Linked DNA regions of Homo sapiens: all the other regions are linked to region 2. Evidence: fine-mapped expression QTL. A gene starts in region 2. Each other region holds a variant in brackets. All regions are shown on one strand. Distances are between the middles of the regions. Region 1 has its middle 24 kb from the start of COLQ. Region 2 holds the start of COLQ (collagen like tail subunit of asymmetric acetylcholinesterase). Region 3 overlaps HACL1 (2-hydroxyacyl-CoA lyase 1). Region 4 overlaps COLQ (collagen like tail subunit of asymmetric acetylcholinesterase).

Region 1 (8,108 bases), 25 kb before region 2:
CTGCTTAGAAATTTCTTCTGCCAGATACCCTAAATCATCTCTCTCAAATTCAAAGTTCCACAAATCTCTAGGGCAGGGGCAAAATGTTGCCACTCTCTTTGCTAAAACATAACAAGAGTCATCTTTGCTCCAGTTCCCAAAAAGTTCCTCATCTCCATCTGAGACCACCTCAGCCTAAATTGTATTGTCCATATCACCATCAGCATTTTGGATAAAGCTATTCGACAAGTCTCTAGGAAGTTCCAAACTTTCCCACATTTTCCTGTTTTCTTCTGAGCCCTTCAAACTATTCCAATCTCTGCCTGTTAGCCAGTTCCAAAGTTGCTTTCACATATTCAGGTATCTTTTCAGCAATGCCCCACTCTACTGGTACCAAGTTACTGTATTAGTTCATTTTCATGCTGCTTGTAAAGACATACCCGAGTCTGGGAAGAAAAAGAGGTTTAATTGGACTTACAGTTCCATATGGCTGGGGAGGCTCAGAATCATGGTGGGAGGTTAAAAAGCACTTCTTACATGGTGGCAACAGGAGAAAATGAGGAAAAAGCAAAAGCGGAAACCCCTGATAAACCCATCAGATCTCGTGAGACTTACTATCACGAGAATAGCATGGGAAAGACCAGCCCCCATGATTCAATTACCTCCCCCTGGGTCCCTCCCACAACACGTGGGAATTCTGGGAGATACAATTCAAGTTGAGATTTGGGTGGGGACACAGCCAAACCATATCAATACCTAACTCTTCAATGTGCATGCACTGATGAACATCTGCAAGCATCAAGACCATCCAGGAAAACATGACCTCACCAAACTAACTAAAGCACTAGGGACCAATCCCAAAGAGACAGAAATATGTGAACTTTCAGACCGAATTCAAAAGGAACTCGGTTTTGAGGAAAGTCAAAGAAATTCAAAATAACACAGAAGGAATTCAGAATCTTTTCAGATAAATTTAACAAAGAGATTGAAACGATTAAGTAGAATCAAGCAGAAATTCTGGATTTGAAAAATGCAGTTGACATGCCGAAGGATGTTTCAGTCTCTTAACAGCAGAATTGATGAAGCAGAAGAAAGAATCAGTGAGCTTGAAGACAAGCTACTTGAAAATACATGGTCACAGACAAAAAAAAAAAAAAAAGAAAGAAAGAAAAGAATGAAGCATGCCTACAAGATCTAGAAAGTAGCATCAAAAGGGCAAATCTAAGAGTTATTGGCCTTAAGGCCGGGCATGGTGGCTCACGCCTGTCATCCCAGCACTTTGGGAGGCCGAGGTGGGTGGATGATGAGGTCAGGAGATCGAGACCATCCTGGCTAACACGGTGAAACCCCATCTCTACAAAAAATACAAAAAAATTGGCCAGGTGTGGTGGCACGTGCCTGTAGTCCCAGCTACTTAGGAGGCTGAGGCAGGAGAATCACTTGAACCCGGCAGGTGGAGGTTGCAGTGAGCCAAGATTGTGCCACTGCACTCCAACCTGGGTGACAGAGCAAGAGTCCGTCTCAAAAAAAAAGTTATTGGCCCTAAAGAGGAGGTAGGTAGAGAGAGAGATGAGGGTAGAAAGTTTATTCAAAAGGATAATAACAGCTTCCCAAACCTAGAGAAAGATATTAATATTCAAGTACAAGATGGTTATAGAACACCAAGCAGATTTAACCTAAAGAAGGCTACCTCAAGGCATTTAATAATGAAACTCCCAAAGGTCAAGGATAAGGAAGTCAGCCTACAAGCAAGAGAAAAGAAACAGTATACAATGACGCTTCAGTACGTCTCGCAGCAGACTTTGCAGTGGAAACCTTACAGGCCAGGAAAAAGAGTGACATGACACATTTCAAGTGCTGAAGGAAAAAACTTTTACTGTAGAATAATATAACCAGCAAAAATTTCCTTCAACTGTGAAGAAGAAATACTTTCCCAGACAAAAGCTGAAGGGTTTCATCAACACCAGACCTGTCCTACAAGAAATGCTAAAGGGAATTCTTCAATCTGAAAGAAAAAGACCTTAATGAGCAATAAGAAATTATCTGAAGCTGCAGAATTCACTGTTAATAGTAAACACACAGAAAAACACAAAATATTATAACACTGTAATTGTGGTGTGCAAACTCATATCTTAAGTAGAAAGACTAAATGATGGACAAGTCAAAAATGGCCAGGCACAGTGGCTCTTGCCTGTAATCCCAGCACTTTGGGAGGCCAAGGTAGGCAGGTTGCTTGAGCTCAAGAGTTCAAGACCAGCCTGGGCAACATAGTGAAACCCTGTCACTACAAAAAAATACAAAAAATTAGTTGAGTGTAGTGGCATGTTCCTGCACTTTCAGCTACTCAGGAGGCTGAGGTGGGAGTCACCACCCTGGAGGTCGAGGCTACAGCCAGCCTGGGCGTTAAGTGAGAGCCTATCTCAAAACAAAACAATAACTGCAACAACTGTTCAAGACAGAGTTCAGTAAGGTATAAATTAAAACAAAAACAAAATAAAAAGTAGAGGGAAGAAGTTAAAGTGTACAGATTTTTTATTTTTATTTCTCACACTATACTGATGTAAAAAGTGTAGCATTTTAATTAGTTTTCTCTTTGCTTGTTTATACAAGTGTTAAGTTGTCATCAGTTTAAAGAAATGGGTTATAAGATATTATTTGCAAGCTTCATGGTAACCTCAAATCAAAAAACATATGATTGATAACACAAACAATAAAAAGGAAGAAATTAAAACATACCACTAGAGAAAATCACCTCGGCTAGAAAGGAAGACAGGACAGAAGGAAAGAAGGAAGAGAAGACCACAAAACAACCAGAAAACAAGTCATTACTTATCAATAATAACATTGAATGTAAATGGACTAAATGCTCCAATCAAAAAGCATAGAGTGGTTGAATGGATAAAGAAAAAAAAAGACCCAATGATCTGTTGCCTACAAGAAACACACTTCACGTATAAAGACACTCATAGACAAAAGAAAGGGATGGAAAGAGATACTCCATGCAAATGGAAATCAAAAAAGAGCAGGAGTAGCTATACCTGTATCAGACAAAATAGACTTCAAGACAAAAACTGTAAAAAGAGGCCAGATTATTATATAATTATAGAGGAGTCAATTCAGGAAGAGGATATAACAATTATATATGCATCCAATACTGGAGCACCCAGATATATAAAGCAAACATTAATAGAGTTAAAGAGAGAGATAGACCCCAATATAATAATAGTGGGAGACTTCAACACCCCACTTTCAGCATTGGACAAATCATCCAGACAGAAAACAAAGTAACATTGGACTTAATCTGCACTGCAGACCAGATGGACCTAATAGATATTTATAGAACAATTCATGCAATGGCTGCAGAATATACATTCTTCTCCTCAGCACATAGATTATTCTCAAGCATAGACCATATGTTAGGCCACAAAACAAGTCTTAAAACATTTTAAAAAACTGAAATAATATCAAGTCTCCTCCCTGATCTCAATGGAATAAAACTGGAAATCGATAATGAGGAATTTTGGAAACTATACAAACACATGGAAATTAAACAGTATGTGTCTGAGTAACCAATGGGTCAGTGAGGAAATTAAGAAGGAAACTGAAAAAATTATTGAAACACATGATAATGGAAACACAGCATACCAAAACCTATGGAATACAGCAAAGCAGTGCTAAGAGGGAAGTTTATAGCTATAAGTACCTACATCAAAAAAGTAGAAAAACTGGCTGGGTGCAGTGGCTCACGCCTGTAATCCCAGCATTCTGGGAGGCTGAGGTGGGTGGATCACCTGAGGTCAGGAGTTCAAGACCAGCCTGGCCAACATGGTGAAACCCTGTCTCTA[C/T]TAAAAGTACAAAAGAAAAAAGCTGGGTGTGGTGGCACATGCCTGTAATCCCAGCTACTCAGGAGGCTGAGGCAGGAGAATTGCTTGAACCCAGGAGGCAGAGGATGCAGCGAGCCAGTATTGCACCACTGTACTCTAGCCTGGGTGACAGAGCAAGACTCCATCTCAAAAAAAAAAAAAAAAGAAAAAATAGAGAAACTTCAAATAAACAACCTAACAATATATCTTAAAGATTTAGCAAAGCAAGAGCAAACCAAACTTAAGATTAGTAGAAGAAATAATAAAGAGCAGAGCAGAAATAAATGTAATTGAAATAAAGAAAACAATGCAAAAGTTCAACAGAACAATTTTTTAAAAAATAAAATCCTTTCGCCAGATTAAGGAAAAGAGAAGACCCAAATAAATCAGAGATGAAAAAGGAGACATTACAACTGATATCACAGAAATTCAAAGGATCATTGGAGCAACTATATGACAAGAAATTGGAAAACCCAGAAGAAATGGATAAGTTCCTAGACACATACAACCTACCAAGATTGAACCATAAGTAATACCCCACAAGCACAGGCAACCAAAGCAAAAATAGACAAATGGAGTCACATCAAGTTAAAAAGCTTCTGCACAGCAAAGGAAACAAAGTGAAGAGACAACCCACAGACTGGGAGAAAATATTTGCAAACTACTCATCAGAATATATAAGGAGCTCAAACAGCTCTGTATGGAAAAAATCTAATACAATTAAAAAATGGGCAAGAGATCTGAACAGACATTTCTCAAAGTAAGTCATACAAATGGGAAACAGGTATATGAAAAGGTGCTAAATATGGTCATCAGAGAAATGCATATGAAAACTGCAATGAGATGCTTTCTCACCCCAGTTAAAATGGCTTTTATTCAAAAGACAGGCAATAACAAATGCTGGAGAGGATGTGGAGAAAAGGGAACTCTTGTACACTGTTGGTGGAATATAAATTAGTACAACCACTATGGAGAGCAGTTTGGAGGTTCCTCAAAAAACTGAAAATAGAGGGCCGGGCACAGTGGCTCACACCTGTAATGTCAGCACTTTGGGAGGCTGAGGAGGGTGGATCGCTTCAGCTCAGGTGTTTAGACCAGCCTGGGAAATATGGCAAAGCCCCATCTCTACAAAAATACAAAAATAAAAAATTAGCCAGGCATGATTGTATATGCCTATAGTCCCAACTACTCGGGAGACTAAGGATGGGGGATTGCTTGAGCCCAAGAGGTAGAGGCTATGGTGAGCCGAGAGTGTGCCACTGCTCTCCAGCCTAGGTGACAGAGCAAGACCATGTCTCAAAAAAAAAAAAAAAAAAAAAAAAAAAAACCCACTAAAAATAGAGCTACAATATGATCCAGCAACCCACTCCTAGGCTTATACCCAAAAGAAAAATCAGTATATTGAAGCAGTATCTGCACTCCCATGTTTATTGTAGCACTGTTCACAGTAGCCAAGTTCTGGAAACAACCTAAGTGTCCATCAGCAGATGGATGGATAAAGAAAATGTGGTACATATACACAATGGAGTACTATTCAGCCATAAAAAGAATGAGATCCTTTCATTTGCAGCAACATGGATGGAATTGGAGGTCATTATGTTAAGTGAAATAAGCCAGGCACAGAAAGACAAACTTCACATGTTCTCACTTATTGGTGGGAGCTAAAAGTTAAAACAATCGAACTCATGGACATAGAGAGGTTACCAGAGGCTGGCAACAGTAGTCAGGAGAGAGGGCAGTGGGGATGGTTAATGGGTACAGAAGAATAAAAAGAATGAATAAGACCTAGTATTTGACAGCACAACAGGATGACTGTAGTCAACAATTGTACATTTTACAATAACCCAAAGAGTATAATTGGATCGTTTGTCACAACAACAACAAAGAAGGATAAATATGTGTGGTGATGGATACCCTATTTACACTGATGTGATTATTATGCATTGTATGCCTGTATCAAAATATCTTGTGTACTCCATAAATTTATACACCTGTGTACCCACAATTTTATTAAAAAATTTCAGACCAGCTTCCCCTTGATGAGTCAGCAGATGACCTTTTCTCTCCTCGCCTTCCCCACTGTGATGTGTGTATAGTTGGGGGCACCATTAGCTAGGGGCATTTCTGTTGTCCAGGTCCTCTGGAAAGTAGATGCCAAGGTAGGATTAAATACATGAGGGACTTTATTAAGGGAAATGCCTCTGTGAGAGAAAACAGAAGAGCTGGAAAAGGCTGAGAGCCATCAGACTGCAATGCAGGTCAGACCTCAATGAGGAAAGAGGGTAGGAAGGATGGGCAGAAGCATCCTGGCTGGGTGCCATCTGAGGAGAATTTGGCAAGACTTTTATCAGAGGAGTCCCATGCCTCCCAGGAACAGGGCCACCTTCATATTTCTACTGGACATTGGAGAGGAGCAGCACAATGCCTGGGAAATGTGGCCTTAGCGTAAATGTGGGTGACAGATTTCAGAGAGTGGCAGCTGGGGCTCTTGGTCAGTTATGCTCCCGTGATTGGAGACAGATTCTCATGGCTGCACAGGTACTTTCTGGAGGTCTCTTTGTTGCTGCCTTTAGACTGTTAGAACTGAAAAATCGGGAGGTGAAGTTTGCTTAGCAGCACTTACAATCTAAGGATCTGACCCAAGTCCATCTGCATCTCTCCCTCTTCGACAGACAGATGGTATGTCGGAAAGTGTTGAGTGTGGTAAGCTGGAGTTTCTATTCTGGCTCTGCTTTGGGTTATACAACCTCTCTGAACCTCAGTTTCCTCATCTCTATAATGTGGGTTCCAGAATGCCTAACTCTATAGAGCTAAGACCATATGCTGTTTATAGAAATGCTTATTATGAAACCTGGCACCAAATAGCTCCTTGAAAAACATAAGCCCCTCTTCCTTCGTTCCGTCTTTATGCCTCTGGTCCCCCTCCCTCTTAGAGTATAGGATGAGGAGAAAGCTAGCTTTGCTCCATCGTGGAATCCTCTGTTAGACAAGTCCCTACATCCATATTGTTACTATGTGCCATTGACACCATGTCTGTTGCCCACTGGAGAACTGGCTGCAGCCGGTGTTTAATTTGGCCACCTTCCTTCCACATCTCAGCACAGAGCTGGGTTGTCAGTGTCAGTGCAGGAAAGAGCACATTCATTTCGACCCAACTGAATTAGCCAGGCCAGTCGGCAGCCAGGAAGTCATGTGCTGCTTTCCCGAACCAAATATAAATTATTTTTAGATTATTCATTGTTTGGTATTGTCCATACCACAGCTCCCTCCTATTAGAGCACATCAGAGAAAATTGGCTGCAGCCAATTAATGGATATTTAGCAAACCATTTGCCAGTCCTGGGCCTCTGTGTTCTCATTTGTGAGAAGAGTGGTTGAAATTGACCCATAATTCTCAACCCTGGCGGCACATTGAAATCACCTGGGGAGCTTTTAAAAATCCTGATTCCCAAGCCACACCTCAGACCAATTACATCAGAATCTCTAGAGTGGGCCCCAGGCATCAGTATTTTTTAAAGCTCTCCAGGTGATTCCAGTGTGCAGCCCAGTTTTGGAACCAGTGAAGGAGGATTTCAAAGCTTCCTTCCATCTCTAATTCCAGGGATGATGATCTTGAAAAGGGTATAGTCTACTTCTAATTTAACTCATTGAAATAGGAGTTACAAGAATGAGTATTCCAGCAATGTTATAATTTTATATTCTCAAGTTCCCTGTTCTTAATCATGTTTCTGTTTGGCATCTTGGTCACTCACTGTTTAGATTCATAAATAATACTTTTTTTCTATATAAATATTTGTTTACTTCATGTGTCTGCCATTCTTTGTTTTCACTTATGTTGTGGCAGGTGTACATTTCACAGAATTGGTGAACTTTTCTTTATTACTCTATAATAGAAATTAGCTCCTGAACTCCATTTCCACTTAGTATTTAAGTGTACAGCTCGGTGAATTTTTCATATGTATGTGGCCATGTAACCACCACCCAGATCAAGGTATAGGGCATTGCCAATAATCCAGAAGGCTCCCTCATGCCCCCTCCAGCCAACCCATGCATCCCCCACAGCCATTACTCTTCTGACTTCTATCAGTAGAGGTTAAAACTCAAGTCTCTTTTGAGTAAGTCTTTAATTTAGGCTCATTCCTCTCCCTTGTTTTCTTCTTCTCTGGGGACGATCTAATTTTCAGGGGCCTTATTACCATCCTGCCATCAGGGGAGAGTTCTTCTTCAAGAATGACTGATTCTTTAATCTGTGTATACGCAATAAACC
Region 2 (8,108 bases):
CATTTTGAATGGATGTCCCAGGATTTATTCCACCAATGTTTCATTCATGGACAGTTAGGCTGTTTCCAACTTGAGGCAACAATGCACACCCTTGCACCTAAACCACTGGGTAGTGAATGAGTATTTCTGAGAACTTCTGGGTCAGACGGCATGTGCATTTTAAGTTTAATGGGGCCAAAAGATTGTTTTCCAGTGTACAGTCCTGCCTACAAGGTCTGAGAGGGAAGACTCTGACTTTGAATGGCTTTATTGGTGTGAGCTTTTCTCAAATCTCAAATAGTTTCCTTCTGGACAAATCTAATAGTCTATGTTATTAGATTCTGGAAACATCAGAGCCCTTCCAGGAGGATTTGAAGAAAGATGATAATTTCTGTCTTGGTCAGTTAGGGTAATCTTATAAGAAATAGGTTCATAAAATATAAGATACCTAAGGAAATGGAAATTTACTAAAAATTGTTTAATAAGTATTGGGGCCTTATAAATAACTCTGTGTTGGGGCCTCCTCAAAGGGTAGAGGCTCCTGTCGTAACTTTAGATCAGCAGTGACTCATTCTCCAGTGACTTGAATTATAAATTTAGCCTCTCTGTCTGCGGGTCCTAATTCAAGGTGGCCATCCATAGTCCCTCTCACACTCTCACCATACTCACCAAAGCCCTCCCTTGTATCAGGCGCAGGCCACCCAGCTGTATGTGCAGAGGCTCCAAGGGGTGCTGGGGAAATGCAAGTTGTGCAGAAAGCTGGAGCATAAAGTTATGCTACTTTTGTACGTTCTTCTTTTTTCATCCTACCCAGTGGTGTGATTTGATCAAAGTAACTTACATTGTTGAGGATCTGTTAGGTGACAAGGACTGTCCTGGGGGCCTTGAGAGTACATAGAGCTGTGGGATAGTCCCCTATCTTTAGGGATGTTAATGCCAGCTAAATAGCAACACAAGGTGGTGTTCAAAAACAATAGCAGCAGGTGTCACCGGTAGGACGTATTGACAGAATTTGTTCCAAGGGTATGGTCAGTGGTGAATTCTTTGTGCTGAGAGAAGGAAGAAGTCATACTGGCTTTGCAGAGGAGGAATCTGAGCTAGATAGTAAAAATTCATATTCTGACACCAAGTTACTCAAAAGATACCTTCCTCCCAGGTAGACTGTACCTTCTCCAAGCCACTGGAAGCTGGCTGCTGGGGCTCCAGGAGTTAACAAGAGTGAGCCTGAGAATGTCCTGATTGAGTTTGGCCAGCAATCACAGCTCCTTCTTGTAAAAATTTTGGGAGCAGCTAAATGGGGGTACCCTCTCTTTAATCTGTCCTATAAATTTTGAATGTAGTTCAGGTATATTTTTCATGCTTTCAAAAGCTTTCCTTATCAACTCTGTATCAGTTAGCTATTGCTGATGAGCAAGTCATCCTAAAACTTACTGGTTTGAAACAATAGCCGTTTTATTTGCTCATGACTTCGTAATCTGGGCTGGGCAGTTCTTTCGAGGGTCTCACTTGGGGTCACTCCTGTGGCTGGCATCATCTGAGACCAGGACAGGGCTAGATGTTCCAAAATGGCCTCACTCGCCTGTTGATGCTGCATCTGGGATAGTCAGAACAGCTGGAGGCTGGCTGCTTCCCCCTCCATGTGGCCTCTTCAATAGTCCAGACTTTTTAAAGTGGCAGCTGATTTTCAAGAAAAGGCAAAAGCAGGAGCTGCCAGGCCTTTTAAGGCCTAGGCCAGGAGATGGCACAGTGTCCCTTTAGCCACATTCTATTGGTCAAAGTAAGTCACAGAGCCACCTCAGATTTAAGGGAGGGGAACTAGCCCTGCTTTTTGCTGGGAAGAGTGTCATGCACACACTGGGTTGGGAGGACTTTTGGAGGCCATCTTTGCACCCAGGCTACCATGGCTCCCTTGGGTCTCCTTTGTGCTGTTCCTATGTGCAAGTTCTAATCCGTGTAGGATTCATCCCCATTACCTCACTTAACTTTCCAACAAACCTTTAAAGGGAACATTGTCTCCATTGTATGGATGAGAAAACTGAGGCTTAGAGAGGTGAGCTTGTCCACTGCCACTCAGAGCTGAGAGTCAAGCCCAAGTGTGGTGCTACAGCTGTAAAATATCACTTTATACCACGCCCTGACCCAACTCCACCTTCCCCATAATGAGCACAGGGGCAGGATGCCCACCCCAGCATCCAGTAACTAGCAGACTGTTTCTGAGTTAACTCCTATGAGGCATGTAATATGTAAATTAAAGCAAAATGAACAACTCTGTGAATTATTATTTTGTTTTAGTCATCTAATCATCTCTATAACAGGCTTTTATAAACTCATAAAAGGTATTAAGAATGTGATAATTTTTATTTGAATAATTTTGTCTAGCCAAAGATTAAGTTAGTGATGTTATTTTTCTGAATATAGTTTGATAAAAATCATTCACTTTTCTATACTTTTACTGTTTTCATTTATTTTGCCTTGCATTGAATCAAAAGGTTGCAGCTTTTGGAGAGAGAAACACTTTTTCACAGAGAAAGCTGTTTGGAAATATAAACTACTTCCTTCCTCCTTTTTATTGGATGATTAAAGAAAAAAATTAAAAGTTAACTTTACATTTGTTACACAATGGGTAAAAATGTCACAGGCTGACAGTGGAGGGGTTTTTCTCCATGAAATTCAGTTTGAATCAGGAGAGTTGTTTCTGCCCAGTTCCAAGGAGGTAGATGGTGGCACATAACCAATTAGGAATCTCTCTGCCCTTGAGGACTGCCTCCAGTGAACATCTGAGACTTGGCTGCCTTCTCATCACCTCTTCACTAGCCACTTACCTCAGTCTCCAAAAAAGAAAATTTTGACATCTTAATTTTAATGTGGGCATTTGATATGGAGCTTGAGATAAATATAACTCTCTGTAGCATGGAGACAGTTTAATGGGAAATGGTTGGCATTCTTTCTTGGTAAAGGCATGGGAGACAGGAGAGGTGGGGGAGGGAGAGAGAGGGAGGGGGTGAGGAGGAGGGAGAGGGAAAGAGAAAGAGGGAAAGACACACACACACACAGACACACACACACACGCACACACACACACACAAACACACGCGCACGCAAACAGCAGTGAGGAAGAGAAAAGCAGAGATAAGCAAGGCTCCGCAGCAGCCTCCTTTCTAACTTGACCCTCGCCAGACCCTGGCCAGCATGGTTGTCCTGAATCCAATGACTTTGGGAATTTATCTTCAGCTTTTCTTCCTCTCTATCGTGTCTCAGCCGACTTTCATCAACAGCGTTCTTCCAATCTCAGCAGGTAAATGATGGCCACAACTTTCCTCTCTTCCATCTGTCAGGGGACAGGGGGAGGAAGGAAGATTGTTTTGCAATGTGTCCTGATGTTTTTGCCATTCAACTGTTGGTGGAGGGAGGTTGGAAGGAAGACGGCCACCCCAGCAGCTTCCTGTCACCCGAGCTTGTCTCGGAAGCCCCTTCTGTCCTTGTTCCAACCGGCTCCTACCTGGCTGCTCAAAGCAGAGACACTTTGAAAAATGGTTTCTGCCTCCCCTATTCTCCCCATTTGCTGCATGATTTCATCTTGGTCAGGAATTTGGGAGAGCTTAAAAGAGACAGAGGTGTGCAAGTAATAGAGAAGTGAGTCTCAGATGTTTCTATAAATACATCTCTGACCTCTTCGAAGGGGGCTTGCCTCACAGGGGCTGTTGTGGAGTAAACAAACCTCTTTCCAGACCCAGATAGCATCCATGGCCACAATAGTCCCTCGAAGGGAAAATGCAGGTGGCAGGGGCCGGTGGGGTGGGGGGTGAACAGCGGCGGGGCAGTTGCAGCCTCAGGACTAGGTTTTCCCTTTCTCCAGACCTGTCTTCCTGGGTGCGACTTCCCTTCAGCCTCAGACAAGGCAGCTGGAGGTCCTGAGAGAAGTGAGCTTTCCAGGGAGAAGTGGAGGGGGTTCCACAGTGACAGCCAGGTCTGGAGCTGAGTGTGTCTGCCGGGTATGAGGCTGGGAGATTTGGGGAAGGGGCTGTGTCTGCCAGCCTGCAACCTTTTCTGAGGTCAGCAGCCTGTTGCCCTTGTCTTGTCTGACCCAGAGCAGGGGAAGTATTCGGTTACTAGTATGGCCTATTTAAACCTTTCTGAGGAAACTCAAATGTTTCCGGAGGGCTTGAAGGAGGCAGGCAGACCCTCACAGCCCCCCTCAATTCACCTCAGTGACCCCTGACTCTCCCCAGCAAAGTTTTAGTTATGCCTCCAACATGAGTCTCATAAATACTTCAACTGAGACAGAAATTTCACTATCGCTGCCTTTGCTGGAAACACAGGGAGGGCCAGAAATGCCAGGCTCTCAGAGAGGGCACATCTCTGAATCCAGCTCCCAACTGCTGTCCATTGATAAAAACAGCTCATCAGCAAGTTGTGTAGCCAACGTTTGTGGGCCATGAGGGAGTGACTCAGAGACTGGTGTGAGGCTAATTATAAAAGTGTGAGAAACAGAAGGAGGTGGGGGCAGATTTGTGGAGAATTCAGGAGGGTGGGCAGGAAAGGTGAGTGGTGGTGTCACCGTGGGTGTGTGCCCACATGCCCCTGCAAATTCAAGTTAAGAGCATCAAGCTTCTTCTAGGAGTGAGTAGTCATTATTCATTCCCCAGTTCAAGGGAGAAGCTTGAGAGTTAATTTGGCCTAATTTGGTGGTTCTTAATCATGTTTGGGTCATGGATTCCTTTGAGAATCTGCTGAAGGTTAGGACTTAAGGAAACTCAGTTTTCTGGTTCTAGCCCTGCCTCTGATGAGCTCCCTGACTTCTGAGAGACAGTGGCCTTACACTATAAGCACCATGTGGCCAGGGCATGTGTCTCTCTTGTACTTTACTGTTTTCCCAGGGTCAGAACAGTGCCTGGCACATAGTAATCAATAAATATTTGATGAATGAATGAATAAAAGCTTCTCATCTGCAAACTGGGGTTTACCATCATTTTGTATTACTTAATTTAAATAGCACCAAAGTGGTTAAGGAGTTCAGAAAACTAGAGAGAAAAGAACCTCTGGTTTTCTTTTGAACTCTTTGCCTTGGAGAGCACCCTGGCACAACATAGATATCTCTTAGGTAAGCTTTTTGCAGACTGTACCAATCAGGGCAACAGCAGGATAAAGAAGCAACTCAGGTGGTTCAGATGAAAAGATCTGAATGAAGGGATCACTTTGAGAGGTGTGGGCGGGGTTAAGGGAACCAACAAGGAATGCTGAGGCACCTAGAGATTAGCAACTGCAATATGCCTTTACCACCCTGTGCTTGAAAAGGCAAGAGGGGCAAATAGGAAAATGGATCCCAGGCAGATTTGGAGCCTTAGAGAAGGGGCCATTAAGCAAGAGCATTGGTCATGGAAGGCCCTAAAGCAGGGAGAAAGTGAAGGAGAAGTACACCATCTTCTCTCTCCTCCCATCCAAGCACCTTTTGGCAGCGCCTCTCATTGGCCAACCCAACTTGAAGCCAGAGGGCAGAGCCTGGAGGTCAGGGACTGGAACACTGAGGGCAGAGAGCCAAGGGGAGGGTTGGGATGGAGAACAACCAGTGCGCACATCCACAGGCACTTCTGGCTGGGAATGTGGTCATTAGACATTAGGGAAAACAATGGAATAGACCTAGCGGGAATCACTAAGGTAACCAGCTCAGTATCACAAAGATATGTTTTCTCCGGTGGTCACTTGGCTTTGCCCCCCTAATTTAGTCACCATGGCTTTATGATAGCACAGTTCAGAAATAAACTTAAGCTTTAAAAAAATGGAAGCTGTTCCTTGTAATCCTTTGGAAATATTTTCCAACAGTTTGATATAAAATATTCTATATTCAGAAGCTTATAGACTCTTAATTCTTCTGAAGATAGGCTGTGTATACACAGAAAATAAGGGCAACCAGGAAAATCTTTTCATTCTATGCATTATAACTTAGTGAGTGCCTACTGTGTGCCTGGCACTCTAATGTGTGCTTCAAGGGACACGGAGACAAGTAGGATGTGGCCTCTGCTCTGAGGGATTCCATGATCACCTGCTTTTGAAACACAGGTGGCGTGTGGTAAATGCCCCGGAAAGGGGTTGTGATGGAGGAAGAGCTCTCATGGGCCTGTAAGCCAGTACTTACCTTCATAGATAATCCACTCCTTCACTGTCTTCAAGAAAGACTATTCCAGCAGTGCCATGTGCAGCACCAGCTATCTGGATCAGAGGTTCATTACCTGGCAACCTCCTCTGCTGGGTCCCAGAGGAGAACCAGGAAGGAGCAAAAAACATCAGAGGCCAGAACTGATGATAGAAATGCCATCGCTAAAGCACATAATATTTGATACACACAAAACTATTTCAGGCCTTTATTCTAAGCCTATTAACTCTTACTTTGGGCACCACTCTAATAGACATAGATAGTCCGTGACTTGAAAGCTGGTGATTATATATAGCATATTAAATTGGGGAGGGAGGAGTTGCTGCTTAAGCTAGACACAATGACGGATGATAAGAATGATTACAAGAAAAACAATAAAGAATTAGGAAATGGGCCTGAGATTTCAAAAAGAATAGTAGGCCAGGCGCGGTGGCTCACGCCTGTAATCCCAGCACTTTGGGAGGCTGAGGTGGGTGGATCACCTGAGGTCAGGAGTTCGAGACCAGCCTGACCAACATGGAGAAAACCCTGTCTCTACTAAAAATACAAATTTATCTGGATGTGGTGGTGCATGCCTGTAATCCCAGCTACTCAGGAGGCTGAGGCGGGAGAATTGCTTGAACCTGGGAGGCGGAGGTAGCAGTGAGCTGAGATCGCGCCATTGCACTCCAACCTGGGTAACAAGAGTGAAACTTCGTTTAAAAAAACAAACAAAACATAGTAGACTAGAGCTACCTCTAGAGCCTCTGCTCTGTCTGTAACCCCTGAAGGCGTCATTGACTACAGTACATTAACTGGTTTTCATTATGATGAACATGAATGGACCAGTGATGACTGGATTGTGCCTACTTTATCTTGCTTAAGAAGGTAGATAAATGCCATTTATATATTAGAATGATTTCTATTGAACATGGCAATTATTAAAAATGCCAAGATTCCCACGTTTGGTGTATTGCGTTAACCATTGGTGGGTAATAAACCACCGTGACACTTGGTAGATCAAAACAACAACCATTTATTGTTGAAGTTCATGTGTTTGTGGGTAAACTGAGGGTCAGCTAATCTAGCTTGGGTTTGGCTGGCCCTGGCTGGACTCACTTATGGGTCTGTGGATTGACTTGGCTCCAGTATCCACCCACAGTGGTAGCTCAGTAGTAGTACAATTTCCAGAATGTGGAGGCACAGACACAAAGACAATGATATTTACCGGAGGGCAGGCCTTCCACACAGTTTAATTTGTGTAATTCTCGCAGCACTCCTGAATGGGGGCAGCACCACTTCCCCTTTCAGATGAGGAAATGGCAGCTCAGAAAGGTTAAGTGACTTGCCCAAGGTCATGCAGCTGTTATGTGGGAGAGCTGGAGACTGAAATCCTGCTTCTTTAAGTCCAGGGCTTTCACCAGTATATACCAAATCTCCTTATGGTTTTGGATAAATAGTGATATTGGCCTTTAAAGTCCTGTAGGCTACCCTCCTATCCTCTGGAAACTCTCCTCTGGATTCTTTTTTGTTTGTTTTTTCGAGACAGGGTCTCGCTCTGTTGCCCAGGCTGGAGTGCAGTGGTGCGATCTCGGCTCACTGCAACCCTCCGCCTTCCAGGTTCAAGCGATTGTCATACCTCTGCCTCTTGAGTAGCTAGGAGTACAGGCACGTGCCACCAAGCCTGACAAATTTTTGTATTTTTAGTAGAGATGGGGTTTTGCCATGTTGGCCAGGCTGGTCTCGAACTCCTGACCTCAAGTGATCCGCTGGCCTTGACCTCCCAAAGTGCTGGGATTACAGCCACCACGCCTGGCCTGGATTCTTTATTTTCCATTCCCTCCTGCTTTTTCCTCAGTATATCAATGCCCAAAGCTCTAGCAAAAGATTGAATATTGCTTTATATTAAAGTGTGCATGACTTGCCAGGGTACTGATTTATCTCTGCTTTGATGGTTCTTGCATTTTAATGGAGGTTAAGGATCTAAGCTAAACAATAC
Region 3 (8,108 bases), 66 kb before region 2:
GTATTTTTAGTAGAGAAGAGGTTTCACCATGCTGGCCAGGCTGGTCTCAAACTCCTGACCTCAGGTGATCCACCTGCCTTGGCTTCCCAAAGTGCTGGGATTACAGGCATGAGCCACCGCACCCAGCTGCCATAAACACTTTTAACATTTTAGAGTTCCTAATATGTGTGTGTATGTGTGAACGTATGTGTAGTTCTATTTACTTTAAGTGAAGAATTATTTTTTTAAAGATCCAAGCTCAGTGTGTAAAATGTGGCTAATTTTTCACCTTGTTTTGCATAGGTAGGAAGATATTTGAAATTCTTATATTCATTTAGTTTGCTTTATATATAAACTATTTAGTACTTATTCTCTGATCTTGCCCTTAACTCCGTCTCTGGCACTTTACCAGTGAGATCAGGTTGAGGGGGGTTAGGTTCTAATCAATTTGGAACATATTTAATCTTTCTAGTGGAAAGGACATTGTTTTCTTTCTTGCCCTGTGTTTCTTATAGTTTCTTCTTTACTTTCCTTTTGATCTTTCTCTTCTTTATCTACTTTAAGGTGTTATATTTTTTAAGTACCTTAAGGTTTCCCATATCTTTTTTTTTTCCACATTGAAGGATAAGAATTTCATTGCTGAGGAATGTCACTTATTTTGCAATTTCTAAATAGATTCACTTAGGAAAGTGTAAAATTTTTCTTCCCCTTATCCCAAGAATAAGAAAGGCATAAAAATTTATTTTATGTCAATATACCTGGAAGCTTAGCGTCAGCATCCAAAAGGGGAAGGGGAAGAAGGGAAGGAAAACATTTACTATACATTTTGTCTTTTTCTGATATTAAGGAAAGTTCTCTCATATCAGGTTGCTTCTTAGATATTTTTTAATCTACAATTTCTTTCTTTTTTTTTGAGACAGAGTCTTGCTCTGTTGCCCAGGCTGGGGTGCAGTGGCACAATCTCGGCTCACTGTAACCTCTGCTTCCCAGGTTCAAGCAATTCTTCTACCTCAGCCTCCCAAGTAGCTGGGATTACAGGCGCCCACCAGCACGCCTGGCTAATTTTTGTATTTTTTGTAGAGCTGGGGTTTCACCATGTTGGCCATGCTGGTCTTGAACTCCTGATTTCAAGTGATCCACCCACCTTGGCCTCCCAAAGTGCTGGATTACAAGGGGTGAGCCACCTCACCCAGCCTTAATCTACAGTTTCTAAGAAAAAAATATAATATTCTCTCCCTTTAACATTTATTATTTGTTGTGAATTAGACACTGTGTTTAGTGTTTTACATGATGATCTAATTTGTAATTATCTTGTTAAAAAAATGATTGTTTCAGGCCCTTGCTTGTGATTGGTGGTTCCTCTGAAAGAAACCAAGAAACAATGGGAGCTTTCCAGGAGTTTCCTCAGGTATCCAACTTTAAGATTTTGGTTTTTTTTATTTTTAATTTTTGAAACAGGATCTTGCTTTGTTGTTGAGGCTGCAGTGCAGTGGTGCCATCTCAGCTCACTGCAGTCTTGACCTCCTGACCTCAAGCAATCTTCCCACCTCAGCCTCCCAAGCAGCTGGGACTACAGGTTCACACCACCATGCCTGGCTAATTTTTGAGTTTTTTGTAGAGACGAGGTTTCACCATGTTGCCCAGGCTGGTCTTGAACTCTTGAGCTCAAGCGATCCACCTGCCTCAGCTTTCCAAAGTGCTGGGATTACAAGCATGAGCCACCGCACTTGGCCTGCAACTCTTAAGATTTTAGTAACACAATACATACACACCATTAAGAGGTAGAGAGAAGATATAAAAAAGCCTCCTGTTTGCAAAATAAAATAAATAAATTAGAAGTACCTGAAGTAACTTAAAGGTAATTATCTTGAGCTACTATAAGACAACTTCAGGGTGGATATTAAGGGTGAGCTTAGGCCCTGCTTAGAAACAAGCTTTCAAGAAATACACCTTTGTGACAGGATTTTAAGCTCTGAAAATAGGCTCTTAAAGGAGTCAAGAAGATGTAGGAATAAAAATGATTTTGGACTATGCCTCCCAGACTTTAGGGAAATAAGAGGAAAAAACTTACTCAAAATGATTATCAGTAGACTCTGGACAAGTATATTTTTATTTTAGAAGGAGGAAAGAAAGCATGTCAAAATTAAAAGAAACTTGAAAGAATATGTCAACAAAATGCTACAGTTTTAAGAATAAAGCTGGACACGTGGTTCGTAACTGTATTCCTAGCTACTCAGCTACTAGGCTGAGGAGGGAGAATTGCTGGAGCCCAAATGTTTGAGACCAAACATATGTCTGTACAACATATTCAGGTCTTATCTCTGTCTTTCTTTCTTTCTTTTTTTTTTCTTTTTTGAGACAGGATATGGCTGTGTTGCCCAATCTGCAGTGCAGTGGCGCAGTCTTGGCTCACTGCAGCCTTTACCTCCTAGGCTTAAGCCATCCTCCCACCTCAGCCTCCTAAGTGGCTGGGACTATAGGCACACGCCACCATGCCCAGATAATTTTTGTACTTTTTGCAGAGACAGTGTTTTGCCATGGTGCCCAGGCTGGTCTTGAACTCCTGACCTCAAGTGATCCACCACCTTGGCCTCCCAAAGTACTGGGATTACAGGCGTGAGCCACCACACCCATCCAAGATACCGTGTCTTTAGAAAAAACAGTTGTTGGAAACAAATAGCTGAAAGTGAATGATTGACACTTAAGATATAAATATATTTGAGCATTTACAGGACAAAGTTAAAATCATTAGACAGCCGGGCATGGTGGCTCACCCCTGTAATCACAGCACTTTGGGAGCCCCAAGCGTGTAGATCACCTGAGGTCAGGAGTTTGAGACCAGCCTGGCCAACATGGTGAAACTCTGTCTCTACTAAAAATACAAAAATTAGCTGGGCTTGGTGGTGGGTGCCCGTAATCCTCGCTACTTGGGAGGCTGAGGCAGGAGAATCACTTGAACCCAGGAGGCAGAGGTTACAGTGAGCCGAGATCGTACCACTGTACTCCAGTCTGGGTGACAAGAGTGAAACTCCATCTCAAAAATAAATACATAAATAAAATCATTAGACAAAGTCTATTTGTAAATCAGAAATCATTACTGAGAACTTCAAAAAATAAAATTTCATATATGATAAACTAAAATACTGAACTCTAGTATAAGTTAATGCAAAAGTTATATTTTTATACTCTTAGAAGGGAATCGAAGTTTTATTTAGTTAATAGTAGACGATAACAGTTATTTAAAAGATGCTTATGTGTTTGGAAAATAAGTAGAGCAGATTAAGTTAATTAAAAGGAAATCTAAAGTTACTGCAGAAACTATATACGTGAAAAAGAAAACAGGATAAATGTCCACTACATATTTTTTTCCTGAAATGGAAAATAATAGTTTATTAGATCAAATTTAAAAACAGAAGAGAAAGAATCCAAGTATCTGGTTTTTGTGGAAGTCCTTAAAACTAAAGGGCATGAACATAGACTGAAAATCGGAGGGTGATCTTAATTTTGTCATGCCTGTGGGACTATCAGCTTTTCATAGATTTCATACTAAAACATCAAGAGAAACAGTTTCTATATAATGCCTCAAGATATATAGATCTGAGGCATTTTCCTGAAATGGAAAATAATAGTTTATTAGATCAAATTTAAAAACAGAAGAGAAAGAATCCAAGTATCTGGTTTTTGTGGAAGTCCTTAAAACTAAAGGGCATGAACATAGACTGAAAATCGGAGGGTGATCTTAATTTTGTCATGCCTGTGGGACTATCAGCTTTTCATAGATTTCATACTAAAA[C/T]ATCAAGAGAAACAGTTTCTATATAATGCCTCAAGATATATTAAACAGTGAAAAATTATCACTACTGAATTCATATATTCGAAACACCATAGCAAGAAAGTATATAAAAGGAACACTGGCAGAAATGTAAGAATAGATTATTATTATAACAAAATCTAACAGATGAAGTTTTATATTCTTATCTGTGAAATTGCTGGATCCAAAGATATGCTGATTTAAATTTTTTGTAGATTTTAACTTCCTTTCCCATTTATAGTCTCACCAGCAGTTTATAGAAGTGCCTATTTTCCTGTGTTGTGTTAGATGGTGGGTATTATCAGACTTTTGCATCTTTGCCAAAAGATTTTGCATCTTTGGTATGATACGCTTCCTGAATCATACCAAGGCAAAACTTTGTACTTTGAATAGGCTTTTAAGGGACAGTCTAGGCAATATATTTTCTCCATCTTGCCTCTAAACATAAAAGAAATTAATGACTTAACATTTTGTCTTCTTTCAGGAGAGTAACATGATTGTGAGCTGAATTTTAAGTGATTTTCATTTTCCATGTAGGTTGAAGCTTGTAGATTATATACCAAGTTCTCTGCCCGCCCAAGCAGCATAGAAGCTATTCCTTTTGTTATTGAAAAGGTACAGTATTTAATAACAAGCTCTCCAAGTCAACTGATTTTTCTCAGTTGCTCATACTTACTGTTATTTTTATTCTCAAAAGAATGAGTGACAATTAGGAACATACCCAGGCAGTTAAAAATGGCATTGTTAGAAAGCTATTTACATTTTAGTGTTCACTGTCATTACATTTAATTATAGAGAGGTAAAATAAGTTATTTTTGGAAAAAGTTTCTCCTGTGTTTTAGTTTTTAAAATTACCTTTTTAATTATACAAAAGTAAAGAGAAAGGTTTATAATGAACCCTTGAGTACCTTTTCTCTTGTGCTTTTGCAAAAGATTATTTTTGAAAATTGGGATTAAACCAAAACCCTCTAAGACCCTCCGTTAGTTAATTAATACAGCATACAGGTTGATTATTCCTTACCTGAAATGCTTTTCAGAAGTGTTTCTGACTGCAGATTTTTTCAGATTTTAGAATATTTGCATATATATAATGAGACATCTTGGGGATGTGACCCAAGTCTAAATATGAAATTCATTTATTTTTCATATGTACCTTATACACATAGTCTGATGATTATTTTTCCCTTGGGGATGCTGAATAAACTGTTTAGACACCTGCATTTTGACTGTGAGCTGTCACATGAGGTCAGATATGGAATTTTCCACCTGTATCATCTTCTTGGCACACACTAAGTTTCACATTTTGGAAGATTTTGGATTTTTGGATTACAGATACTCAACCTGTATTATAAATTATAATCAGCATTTATACGTGAAATTACATTTTAGCTGTTTCAAAACCAGGAGTTACAGAAACCATTTGATACGTGTAACAGCATCACAGTTTCTGAAAACACTGCCAGATTACTAAGATTAGGAAGCAGATGAAAGTACATATTACAGTGCAAAAACTTGGCAGGCAGAGCCGGGTGAATAATTTCCCAAGCTAAAGTGTAATAGAACATGAATTTTAAAGCCCTAAATGAATACTTTCTTATCTCTCTCCCTTTTAAACAAAAAATCTTTAAAAATGTAGTCAATAGAGGACATTTCGATTTTCATCATAATTATTTTTTTCTCCACAAGGATGTCCAGAAAAATGAAAAGTGTTCATTTTCCAGTTTTAAATTATCTTTGAGTAGAATATGATAAGACTGAGATTTTACAAATCTTTTCTTCTACTTGTAATGAACGTAGGCAGTGAGAAGCAGTATCTATGGTCGTCCAGGTGCTTGCTATGTTGACATACCAGCAGATTTTGTGAACCTTCAGGTGAATGTGAATTCTATAAAGTGAGTAATAGTTATGCTGGAATTCTTTCTTCAATGTACATGTATTATCATAATGCCTACCTTTTTAGAAGAATTTACCCAGCAGTTTATAAGTTAATTTCCATTTGTCTTAACTTGATTATTTAGTAATTAAACTGAATCCTAGCCAAAGGGTTAATTTTCTTAATTAAAATGATATTAGTAGTTATTTATGGATTTAATTACTAAACCAAATACTTAGAACTTCCTGAACTCCTCGTTGAAAATATTCCTCCAGTAACCATAAATATACATCCCTCGTTAATGTAATATGGGTCCTTGAGAATCTTTATAATGTAAGCCAAGAGGTTGGGTGATTATTAAAAAGTATTAGGACTCAGGATAAAAAACATCTAGCTGTCTCTCTCTGTGGTTAACAAATATTCCAGTATAGAGGTTTCTATGATTTCTCATATTCTCATATTTCTTAAATAAACACTAAGTGAAAAGAAGTACAAAAAGCATTTTTCACTGGTATCTAAATCATCCCCTGATAGAGATAGGTACTTAGGGTTAAAGCATCATGGGTACTGTTTAGTGCGTTTCTGCTGTTGTGGACCAAATGGTTCTCTAGTGACTACAGAGAGTCAGTGGGTCTTACTGTATACTCTGTGTACCAAAGAGTGATTTTTTTTTCAATTTGAGACTGAGTCTCTCCCTGTTGCCCGGGCTGGAGTGCAGTGGCACTATCTCAGCTCACTGCAACCTCTGCCTCCTGGGTTCAAGCGATTCTCCTGCCTCAGCCTCCCAAGTAGCTGGGATTACAGGCGCCCGCCACCATGCTTGGCTAATTTTTGTATTTTTAGTAGAGACAGGGTTCCATCATGTTGGCCAGGCTGGTCTCGAACTCCTGACCTTGTGATCCACCAACCTCGGCCTCACAAAGTGCTGGGATTACAGGCATGAGCCACCGTGCCCAGCCAGGAGTGATTTTTTATTTCGGAGAGTCAGATAAAAAAGACACTTGTTTATTCTGCCTAATACCTGAACATGATAATCAAAATACTACTAAGGGGAGGAGGGTAAGCTCAGGTAAGTTAACTCTGTAAGCCTTCTTCTAAATTTTATACAGATTGTCCTTTTTTATTATATGTCTAAATATTTTGACAATATGTCTAAATTTTATACAGTATAATTTATATTAATTAGAATAAATGAAATAGCACAGGACTTGGTGTCCAGAAATACTTAACTGTGACAGTTTGAATATTTCTTTTACTAATGCATATTATGATACTAAAATATTAACACCCAGTGAGTGGAACTGTAGTGGGGCTGGGTGCGGTGGCTTACACCTGTAATCTCAGCACTTTGGGAGGCCGAGGTGGGTGGATCACCTGAGGTAGGAGTTTGAGACCAACCTGGCCAACATAGTGAAACCCCATCTCTACGAAAAATACAAAAATTAGCCAGGCTTGGTGGCATGTGCCTGTAGTCCCAGCTACTCAGGAGGCTGAGGCAGGAGAATCGCTTGAACTTGGGAGATGGAGGTTGCAGTGAGCCAAGTTCGCACCGCTGCACTTAAGCCTGGGTGACAGAGTAAGACTCTGTCTCCACAAAAGAAAAAAAAAAAGAAAAGAAAAAAAAAAAAGAGAAATGTGGTAAGGTGTTTAAAAGCATGGACTTTGGAGACAGAATGACTAGTTCAGTCCTGTCTCTGCCACGTGCCATCTGGAGATCTTGGACAAGTTACTTTCTCTGAGTCTTTTTTTCCTCAGTGGTGAAATGGAGATGATGTTAATACCTAACCTCATTGTTTTGACAGTTAAATGAGAATAAATGGCACATAGCAAATATTAGATTTTATTATGTTTTTACTGTTAGGACAGCTACTGCTGCTACTACAGTACAAAGCCATTAACTCAGATTTTCTGTTAATGAATTGGCCATTTCACTGGTTATTAGATGATATCAGGGAATAACTGTTAATTTACTAGATGTGATAATGATGTGATAGTTGAATATAGGAGAAGGTCCTTATTCACAGCTGCATGGAGAAATTTTTAAGGGTGAAGTGTCTTGATGCCTATTTACTTTAAAATAGTTCATGAAAAATAAATGCATGTTTATGTGTGTATATATGAAACAAATGTGGTAAAATGATATTAAGTTGTTAGATCTACATGGGGGTGTATGGAGATTTATTGTACTATTTTTTCTACCTTTCTATATATTTGAAATTTTCACAATAAAAAGATCATAGTTGGCCTCTTTTAATTAATAGGGCTCTTTTTTTCCAGGTACATGGAACGCTGCATGTCACCTCCTATTAGCATGGCAGAAACCTCTGCTGTGTGCACGGCGGCTTCTGTTATTAGGAATGCCAAACAACCCCTTCTTATCATCGGGAAAGGTAGCATGAATAGAACTCTAAATCTTGCTAGGCTTTTGAAAGTGCCAATTCTTTTTAC
Region 4 (8,108 bases), 59 kb after region 2:
ATGTAGAAAGAAATTACTAAAATAAAATAAAAAAATAAAAAGTTGGCTGGGCGCGGTGGGTCACGCCTGTAATCCCAGCACTTTGGGAGGCCGAGGTGGGCAGATCACGAGATCAGGAGATTGAGACCATCCTGGCTAACACGGTGAAACCCCATCTCTACTAAAAATACAAAAAATTAGCCGGGCGTGGTGGCGGGCGCCTATAGTCCCAGCTACTTGGGAGGCTGAGGCAGGAGAACGGCATGAACCTGGGAGGCGGAGCTTGCAGTGAGTCGAGATCGCGCAACTGCACTCCAGCCTGGGTGACAGAGCGAGACTCCATCTCAAAATAAATAAATAAATAAATAAATAAATAAATAAATAAATAAATAAATCAAAATATAAAGTCTGTTATTGAGAAGGGCATAGATACACTGCTTCCTTGTATGTTGTTTTCAAGACGGAGCCTTGCTCTGTCGCCCAGGTTGGAGTGCAGTGGTGCGATCTTGGCTCACTGCAACCTCCACCTCCCGGGTTCAAGTGATTCCCCTGCCTCAGCCTCCTGAGTAGATGGGATTACAGGTGCCTTCCACCACGCCTGGCTAATTCTTGTATTTTTAGTAGAGATGGGGTTTCACCATTTTGTTCAGGCTGGTCTGGAACTCCGGACCTCGTGATCCGCCCACCTCGGCCTCCCAAAGTGCTGGGAATACAGGCGTGAGCCACCACACCCAGCTGCTGCTTCCTCTTTTACCTCATTCAATTTTATTAGCTAAGCCCTTTATTTCGTTCCCTTGTCAGCTCATGGTAGGGGCTTTCACAGCACATCAACTGTATAAAGACAGTATCAAGAAGATCATTTGTTGACTGCAACATTTTCTGTCTTCAGTTATACAAAAGGAATCCAAACAATTTTTATTCCAACTTTTTTCTTAAGAAAATGAAGACATTTACAATTCCACAGTGTATTCCCCCTCCTCCTGTGTTTATGGAACTATATTTGCAACCACATCATGGGATGGGCAAGAAATGTCATATTTTGTTAGATCCTTTAAACTAAGTTAAATCTGGCTCTGAGAGTCCAACCTACTAGGATGCCAAATAAATTAATTCAGGCATTATTAGGATTTTCACTACTCCTCCAACAACCACAAATAGGTTGGGCAAAGATCCTGGTGAATTATGGCAGAAAAATGTCAGGGAAGGTCCCTCCAACCTTTGGTCTACTCCATTCACCTCTGAAATAGAGTAGAAATAGAAATAGACTTGTTGTCCAAGTCCCTGTGGTCCACAGATACCTGGTGGCTGCTGTTCTCATGCCATACGTGGGTATCAGAACATTTTCAAGGCTGGGAGTCCTGGTCCCCACAGTTCAACTTTCCAAGGAGCACCCCACAACCATTCTTTCTGAGACCTGTCTCTTTCTCAGGATACAAGGGGTCCCTCTCCTGTCCATGTCTAGGGAGGTCTCTCCTCTTCCATCCCTGACCCCTCCTTCCTCATACTCCTCATATACCAGCACCCCAATTAGGAGCTTTGTCCTTCAGAGAACAGAAGGCAGAAAGAAAAGTTTGTTTCCAATAGTACCTGCTTTTAGCAAGGGCAAGAAAGCACAAACTCTTGCTACCTCCTTGAAATAGGGAGAGGAGGAAGGAAATACTGGGAGAACAAACACTGATTAGTATGGGTAATAACTTATGTTTGCTGCGCCTGTTTCCATGTTGTTAGGGGAATCAGATTTGAGATGCAGCCCAGGCCATGTGCCCACACTCCATAATTCATTTCTGGAATTGGCTGGATGATCTGAATGGGGGTCCTTTCAACTAGTCCTCTTCCTCCTTGGTTCTGGAAGGCATGATGTCCCCCTGGAGCCCCATAACTATGAGCTACCAACCGCAGAGACTGAGAGCTTGGCCTGAGTTGTGCCTTCAGAAGGGACTCTCTTGGCCCCTGGGGTACCTAGGGGCTCACAAAACTGAGGAGTAGGCCAGGCGCGGTGGCTCACACCTGTAATCCCAGCACTTTGGAAGGCCGAGGTGGGCAGATCATGAGGTCAGGAGATCGAGACCATCCTGGCTAACACAGTGAAACCCCATCTCTACTAAAAATACAAAAAATTAGCCGGGCGTAGTGGCGGGCGCCTGTAGTCCCAGCTACATGGGAGGCTGAGGCAGGAGAATGGCATGAACCCGGGAGGCGGAGCTTGCAGTAAGCCAAGATCGAGTCACTGCACTCCAGCCTGGGTGACAGAGCAAGACTCCATCTCAAAAAAAACAAAAAACAAAAAACAACAAAAACAACAAAAAAAAACAAAACCAAAACCAAAAAAAACTGAGGAGTAGTCCAGGGGCAATGGGATTGGTGGATGTGGGATGTGTAGGAGATCCTTAGCGGACTGGGATCTTAATGGTCTCACTGTGTTTATCTCTTTGTAAAGGCCAGCCCTCACCTGACTTGTCTGGTTCCCTCCTGGGGCTAGGGGATGGATGAGAAGGGCTAGGCTGGAGCTGTCAGCAGCTTCTTGGTGCCTGCTGTTTCTCTTGTCTTGTCTGTCTTCGGTGTATTGCAATCCTGTCCTCTTAGCAGGCCCCGCAGAGTCATACTTTTTCTCCCTGGCCTTCCAGCTCCCTCTCTTCCACCCAGTATGCCCACCTCCCTCTCCCTTGACTACCCCAGCCTCTGCCCAATCACGCCCTGCCCTCTACCCTTCAGAGGACACCTTGCCGTCTGTGGAGCTGGAGCTATTCCTATGGTCTCTCTGGGTCCACATGACCTTACATGGCACTCCTCTCACCTTCTGTCCATCCAACAAAATTCTCTGTTCCTTTGAAGCTCTCTTTTCAGTAAGGCCTTCCTTGGCCCCTAACAGGATGGATCACCCTCCCCTGAGCCCTGGTCATTGCCTCTCTGTTATGGCCTCTCCATTGGTAACGTTTCTGCAGATGTGTTTCATCTTCCCACTAGATCCTTGAGGGCGAGGTAGGCGGCTGAGTCAGCTTCACATCCCCAGTGGCACCTGGTATGTGGGTGGACAGGGCTGCTTCCTGCAGGGGCTCCCAGGCAGGGGTTCTGTGGGTTCACAGTTCATCTCCTTAGGAGCCAAGCAGGGTGGGACCATCTCTTTGGATTGATGCCCCCGCCCCCCATTCCGTCCTTTGAGCCACTTCCTTTCTGAGGAGGCTTCCTGAGTGAGCGGGCTGAAGAAGGTAAAGAGAAGATGGGGCAATAAATAATCCTGCTCTTTGGAAAATATTGGAGGGGTGGGGAGAGAGGGCAAGGAAGGAGTTAAAAAGAGATATTCAGCCGGGCGCGGTGGCTTACGCCTGTAATCCTAGCACTTGGGGAGGCTGAGGTGGACGGATCACTTGAGGTCAGAAGTTTGAGACCAGCCTGGCCAACATGGTGAAACCCCCATCTCTACTAAAAATACAAAAATTAGCCGGGCATGGTAGCGGGCACCTGTAATCCCAGCTACTCAGGAGGCTGAGACAGGAGAATCACTTGAACCCGGGAGGCGGAGGTTACAGTGAGCCGAGATCTCGCTACTGCACTCCCGCCTGGGCGACAGAGTAAGACTCCATCTCAAAAATAAATAAATAAATAAATAAATAAATAAATAAATAAATAAATAAGTTATCCCTGTGCCTGGGACCAGTTGGATAATCATCCAGAGTTGGACTAGGCCCCCCAAATTGGTTCCTGACACTACCTTTGACAGTCTGATGAAAGTCCCAAACCCATTCTCGGGGGGGAAAAAACTGTATATACCTACATCCAAGGTTTTGCACCCTGTTTCCCAGGGTTCCAGAACCCCTGTCCCAGCGCCATCGTGAGATAGCCTTGGCCTCTGTAGACCACAGGTTAAAACTCCCCTGGTCTAGTCCTACCCTCCCCTTAGAGAAAAGAATCTTGAACCTCAAAGAGAAGTGATGCCTGCAAGGTCACAGCAGTGACTGGGGGCCACCCTGGTCCAGAATGGGTGAGTGTCAGCCAGGCGGCCCTAGAGGTTGTTGTGCTGGTTCCTCTGCCCTCTCCTAGATTCCCCTTTCCTGATCCTTTCCCACTGAGGCAGCCAATGGAAGCGGGAGCCTGCCTGGGAAAAGATGGAGAGCCAGGTCCTCTGGCTGCAGGGGGTGGCGATGAAACCCAGCTGAGACATGATCTCCCAGAGGTCAGGGTGGGGAAGTTCAGGTTGCTGAGTCCTTTAGTATAGCCTGGCAGAAAACAGGCAGGGGTAACAGATGCCCTGCAGCAACTGGGAGGAAGCTGCAGGGAAA[C/G]TGCAGTGGTGGCAGCAGGCTCCCTGCCACATCCTGTTGGGAGGTGACCTCGGTTTCTGGTGCCCAGCTCTGTGGGACCAGATGGTGCTGGGGGAGGTGGAAAGGGTGAGAGCTTTGTACTTATCTGAGTTAGAGGGTAAGAGGGGCTAAGAGGTCGGGGGGGGAATAAAGGCAAAATGCCTTTAGGATGTAATTTGCAATAATCAAATTACAAATTTGGCTGAGTCCTTCCTGTACCCAGACAGAGTATAAGTGAATCAACGTGGTACCTGGGAATTGCCAGCTTCCTGAGAGCATCAGTATTCTTGGACATTTGTCTTTTGAACAGCATAGTGTTAAGTAAAACATGAATTCAAATCTCAGCCTCACCATTCATCAGCAGCTAATGGGACAAACTCCTGACTGTCTCTCAGGCCATGGTTCTGGAGGAGTTGTTGGGGTCACAGAGCCTTCTGGAAGGCTGTTCCAATGCCACCCTCATATTCTTGGTCACAGAGCTTTTCCACTTCAATTTCCCCAAGTGCTTAATTACCCAGAATATTCCTAGCCTGGTGGATTCCCTGTCTCTCTGGGCTCTTCTGAAAATATCAGAACACAGACTGGAGCTCTTCCTACAGAATTATATTTGTATTTCTTGTTAGAACAAACAACCATAACTTAGGATAAGATATTGGCACAGTGCCCTTCCCCTCATGCTGTCAGCATTCTGATTGTACGAATACCTGTCAACTCGCTCAGGAAAGTTCAGTCTCCTCCGACTGCAGTGTTTTCCCTGGGGTCCTGGCCAGATCTCTCCCCTGGGGTCATTTTATTTCCTGCCCTTCTGGATCTGTGAACTGTGTTCCCAGCCCCTGGCTGCCCCAGATGTCATACTGCCTGACACCAATGACTGGCTGGCCTCCAAACCCACCCCTCGCTATTTTCCCAGAAGAAGGGATCCTTACCTATTTCTCTTCTCAGTCCCCATCTTTTTTTCTCTTTCCTCACTTCCTGTTAGATGGCTTTTGTTCTGGTGCTTTTCTGCCAGCCAGAATGTGACTTTTACCCTCTTCTGAAGACTTTTTCTCTCCAATTAGTCGGCATTCATTCATTCGATCATCAAACACTTTCCATGCCCCTACTTTGTGTAAGCCCTGGTGGATGAAAACAGGCACTAGCCCTGTCCTTGTGGAGCGACATTCTACTGGAGATCAACCTTGATGGAATAATCTCACAATATATAGAATCACAAAGAGAAGTGCTGTGAAGAAAGGCATAGGAAACCATGAAATTGTATCCCAGGTATACATGACAGAGTCTGAGGATTCAAAAAGTCTTCCTTCAAGAAGTGATGTTTGAACCCAGATCAGAAGGGAGTTGAGAGGCAGCTGGGGAGGGATGGAGGATGAAGGGAGGATGATCTGGCAGGGGAATGGCCCAGTTCTCAACCTTGGGGCAAATTGGAATCATCTTGAGAGCTTTTAAAAATATGGATGCCTAGCACATGTATACATATGTAACTAACCTGCACATTGTGCACATGTACCCTAAAACTTAAAGTATAATAATAATAATAATAATAAAATATGGGTGCCTGACCAGGCGCGGCAGCTCACACCTGTAATCCCAGCACTTTGGGAGGCCAAGGGAGATGGATCACTTGAGGTCAGGAGTTCGAGACCAGCCTGGCCAACAGAGTGAAACCCTGTCTCTACTAAAAACACAAAAATTAGCCAAACCTGATGGCACGTGCCTGTAGTCCCAGCTACTCAGGAGGTTGAGGCAGGAGAATCACTTGAACCTGAGAGGCGGAGGTTGCAGTGAGCTGAGATTACACCACTGCACTTCACCCTGGGCGACAGAGTGAGGCTCCGTCTCCAAAAAAAAAAAAAAAAAGGATGCCTTATGCTAAAGTGGTAAAAAAATTTTTTTTAATAAATAAATAAAAGTGTGGATGCTGCCTAGGTTCAGTTCAGTTTTCAGAAGTCTTGATGGAATTGGTCTGAGGTGTATCCTGGGTATCAGAGCCTTTAAAAACCAAGGTACTACCCTCACAGTTCTTCCACATTGCTAGGGAGTACACTTTCTGATCATATCTTTTCAAGACATGTCCTCACTTCTTCAGCACCAGGGGAGGGTAAATGGGCAGAGCATATACTAATGTTCTATTTTCTTCCAGAAGAAATGAAAGAAACCCACATCCAGAAATTCCTCTGTAAAGATCCTACATTGGCTGGGTATGGTGGCTCACGCCTGTAATCCCAGCACTTTGGGAGGCTGAGGTGGGCGGATTACTTGAGGTCAGGAGATCGAGACCAGCCTGGCCAACATGGCAAAACCCCGTCTCTACTAAAAATACAAAAATTAGCCTGGTGTGGTGGCACACACCCGTAATCCCAGCTACACAGGAGGCTGAGGCAGGAGACTCACTTGAACCTGGGAGGCAAAGGTTGTAGTGAGCCAAGATCGTGCCACTGCACTCCAGCCTGGGCAACAGAGCAAGACTCCATCTCAAAAAAAAAAAAAAATTCTATATATAAGAAAAACAAAAGTTTTTTAAAACAATAAAAGTTAACAGTCAATAATGTGTTTGTCGGCAAGAAGCCCTCTGTTAATAATGGTCTAAACAAATAAGACATTGTTTTTCTCCAATAAAGAAATCCAGAGGCAGGCAGTAGCTGGCTTTGATTCAGCCTCTGACTGTCACTGTCAGGGCCCCAGGCCCCATGAGCCTTTCGTCTTTCCTGCATGTTGGCTTATCTTCTCATGCTTGTGACTTCCTGGTTGCAACACGGCTGCTGCAACACCAGACATCTTGCCTGTCTTCAAGGCAGGAAGGAGGGGGAAACTATCGCCTACCAGCTATTTTTCTTACCTTAGCTCCTCCATGTCTTGGATCAAAAGCATCTCTTTGAACCTCTCCCTCAGGCATACCCTGAAATGCTGTGGACTTTAACCTTTTTTCTGTTGCAAAGGTCGCTCACATCTCCCTGGTTGTTTGGTCTTCTCTTCCTTGGCTCTAGTAACACAGCAGTCTGTTGCTTCCTAGGACAACTTATAATGGGACCCAAAGGGGAAAGAGGATTTCCCGGGCCTCCAGGAAGATGTCTTTGTGGACCCACTATGAATGTGAATAACCCTTCCTACGGGGAATCTGTGTATGGGCCCAGTTCCCCGCGAGTTCCTGTGGTAAGGCTTTCTGGGAGAAGTCTGGGGTGGTTATCCGTGAGGACCTCTCACCTGATCCTTATGGGGCTTTGTAAAATCCTTTCAGTAAAACTAACTTTTTTTCACGACTCTGAGTACACCCTCATTATAGGAAATTGGAAAATATGAGAAAATCAAGAGGAAAACCAAATTGTCCATTTGATTGTGAGTCCATTTTGGGGTATTTTCTTTGTCTTATTAAAATCTAACTTTTATATGGTTGAGATTATATTGTATAAAAATGTACTTTTGGCCGGGCATGGTGGCTTATGCCTGTAATCCCAGCACTTTGGGAGGCCAAGGTGGGTGGATTATAAGGTCAGGAGTTCGAGATCAGCCTGGCCGATACAGTGAAACCCCATCTCTACTAAAAAATATATTTAAAAAATTAGCCGGGCGCGGTGGTGCACGCCTGTTGTCTCAGCTACTTGGGAGGCTGAGGTGGGAGAATCGCTTGAACCCAGGAGGCGGAGATTGCAGTGAGCTGAGATAGCACCACTGCACTCCAGCCTGGGCAACAGAGCGAGACTCCGTCTCAAAAAAAGTTATACTTTGTTATCTTAGTTGAAATCCTGCCATGTTTCCACACTCTATAAATAACATTTTAAACTTTTTATTAGGGAAAATTTCAAATACATATAAAAGCAGAACAAATAGTGTAATGAA

The links. PIP is the estimated chance that this variant, and not a neighbour inherited with it, causes the effect.
Region 1: its variant is fine-mapped to the expression of COLQ in coronary artery (GTEx, PIP 0.93).
Region 3: its variant is fine-mapped to the expression of COLQ in lymphoblastoid cells (GTEx, PIP 0.94).
Region 4: its variant is fine-mapped to the expression of COLQ in whole blood (TOPMed, PIP above 0.99). The same link has a PIP of 0.9 or more in blood mononuclear cells.

What each region holds. Positions count from the first base shown.
Region 1 is chr3:15,541,692-15,549,799 of GRCh38, reverse strand. No RefSeq gene overlaps it. Among named protein-coding and RNA genes, the nearest start is that of COLQ, 24 kb to the right of the region's middle. The variant C/T (reference allele first, on the strand shown) is at 3,825.
Region 2 is chr3:15,516,686-15,524,793 of GRCh38, reverse strand. It overlaps COLQ (collagen like tail subunit of asymmetric acetylcholinesterase), which reads left to right and starts at 3,088. Exons shown (of 17, transcript NM_005677.4): 1 at 3,088-3,274. The coding sequence starts at 3,169.
Region 3 is chr3:15,582,819-15,590,926 of GRCh38, reverse strand. It overlaps HACL1 (2-hydroxyacyl-CoA lyase 1), which reads left to right. Exons shown (of 17, transcript NM_012260.4): 5 at 1,315-1,387; 6 at 4,325-4,402; 7 at 5,585-5,679; 8 at 7,938-8,050. Among named protein-coding and RNA genes, the nearest start is that of HACL1, 15 kb to the left of the region's middle. The variant C/T (reference allele first, on the strand shown) is at 3,773.
Region 4 is chr3:15,457,502-15,465,609 of GRCh38, reverse strand. COLQ (collagen like tail subunit of asymmetric acetylcholinesterase) reads left to right here. Exons shown (of 17, transcript NM_005677.4): 13 at 7,285-7,424. Among named protein-coding and RNA genes, the nearest start is that of EAF1, 34 kb to the right of the region's middle. The variant C/G (reference allele first, on the strand shown) is at 4,257.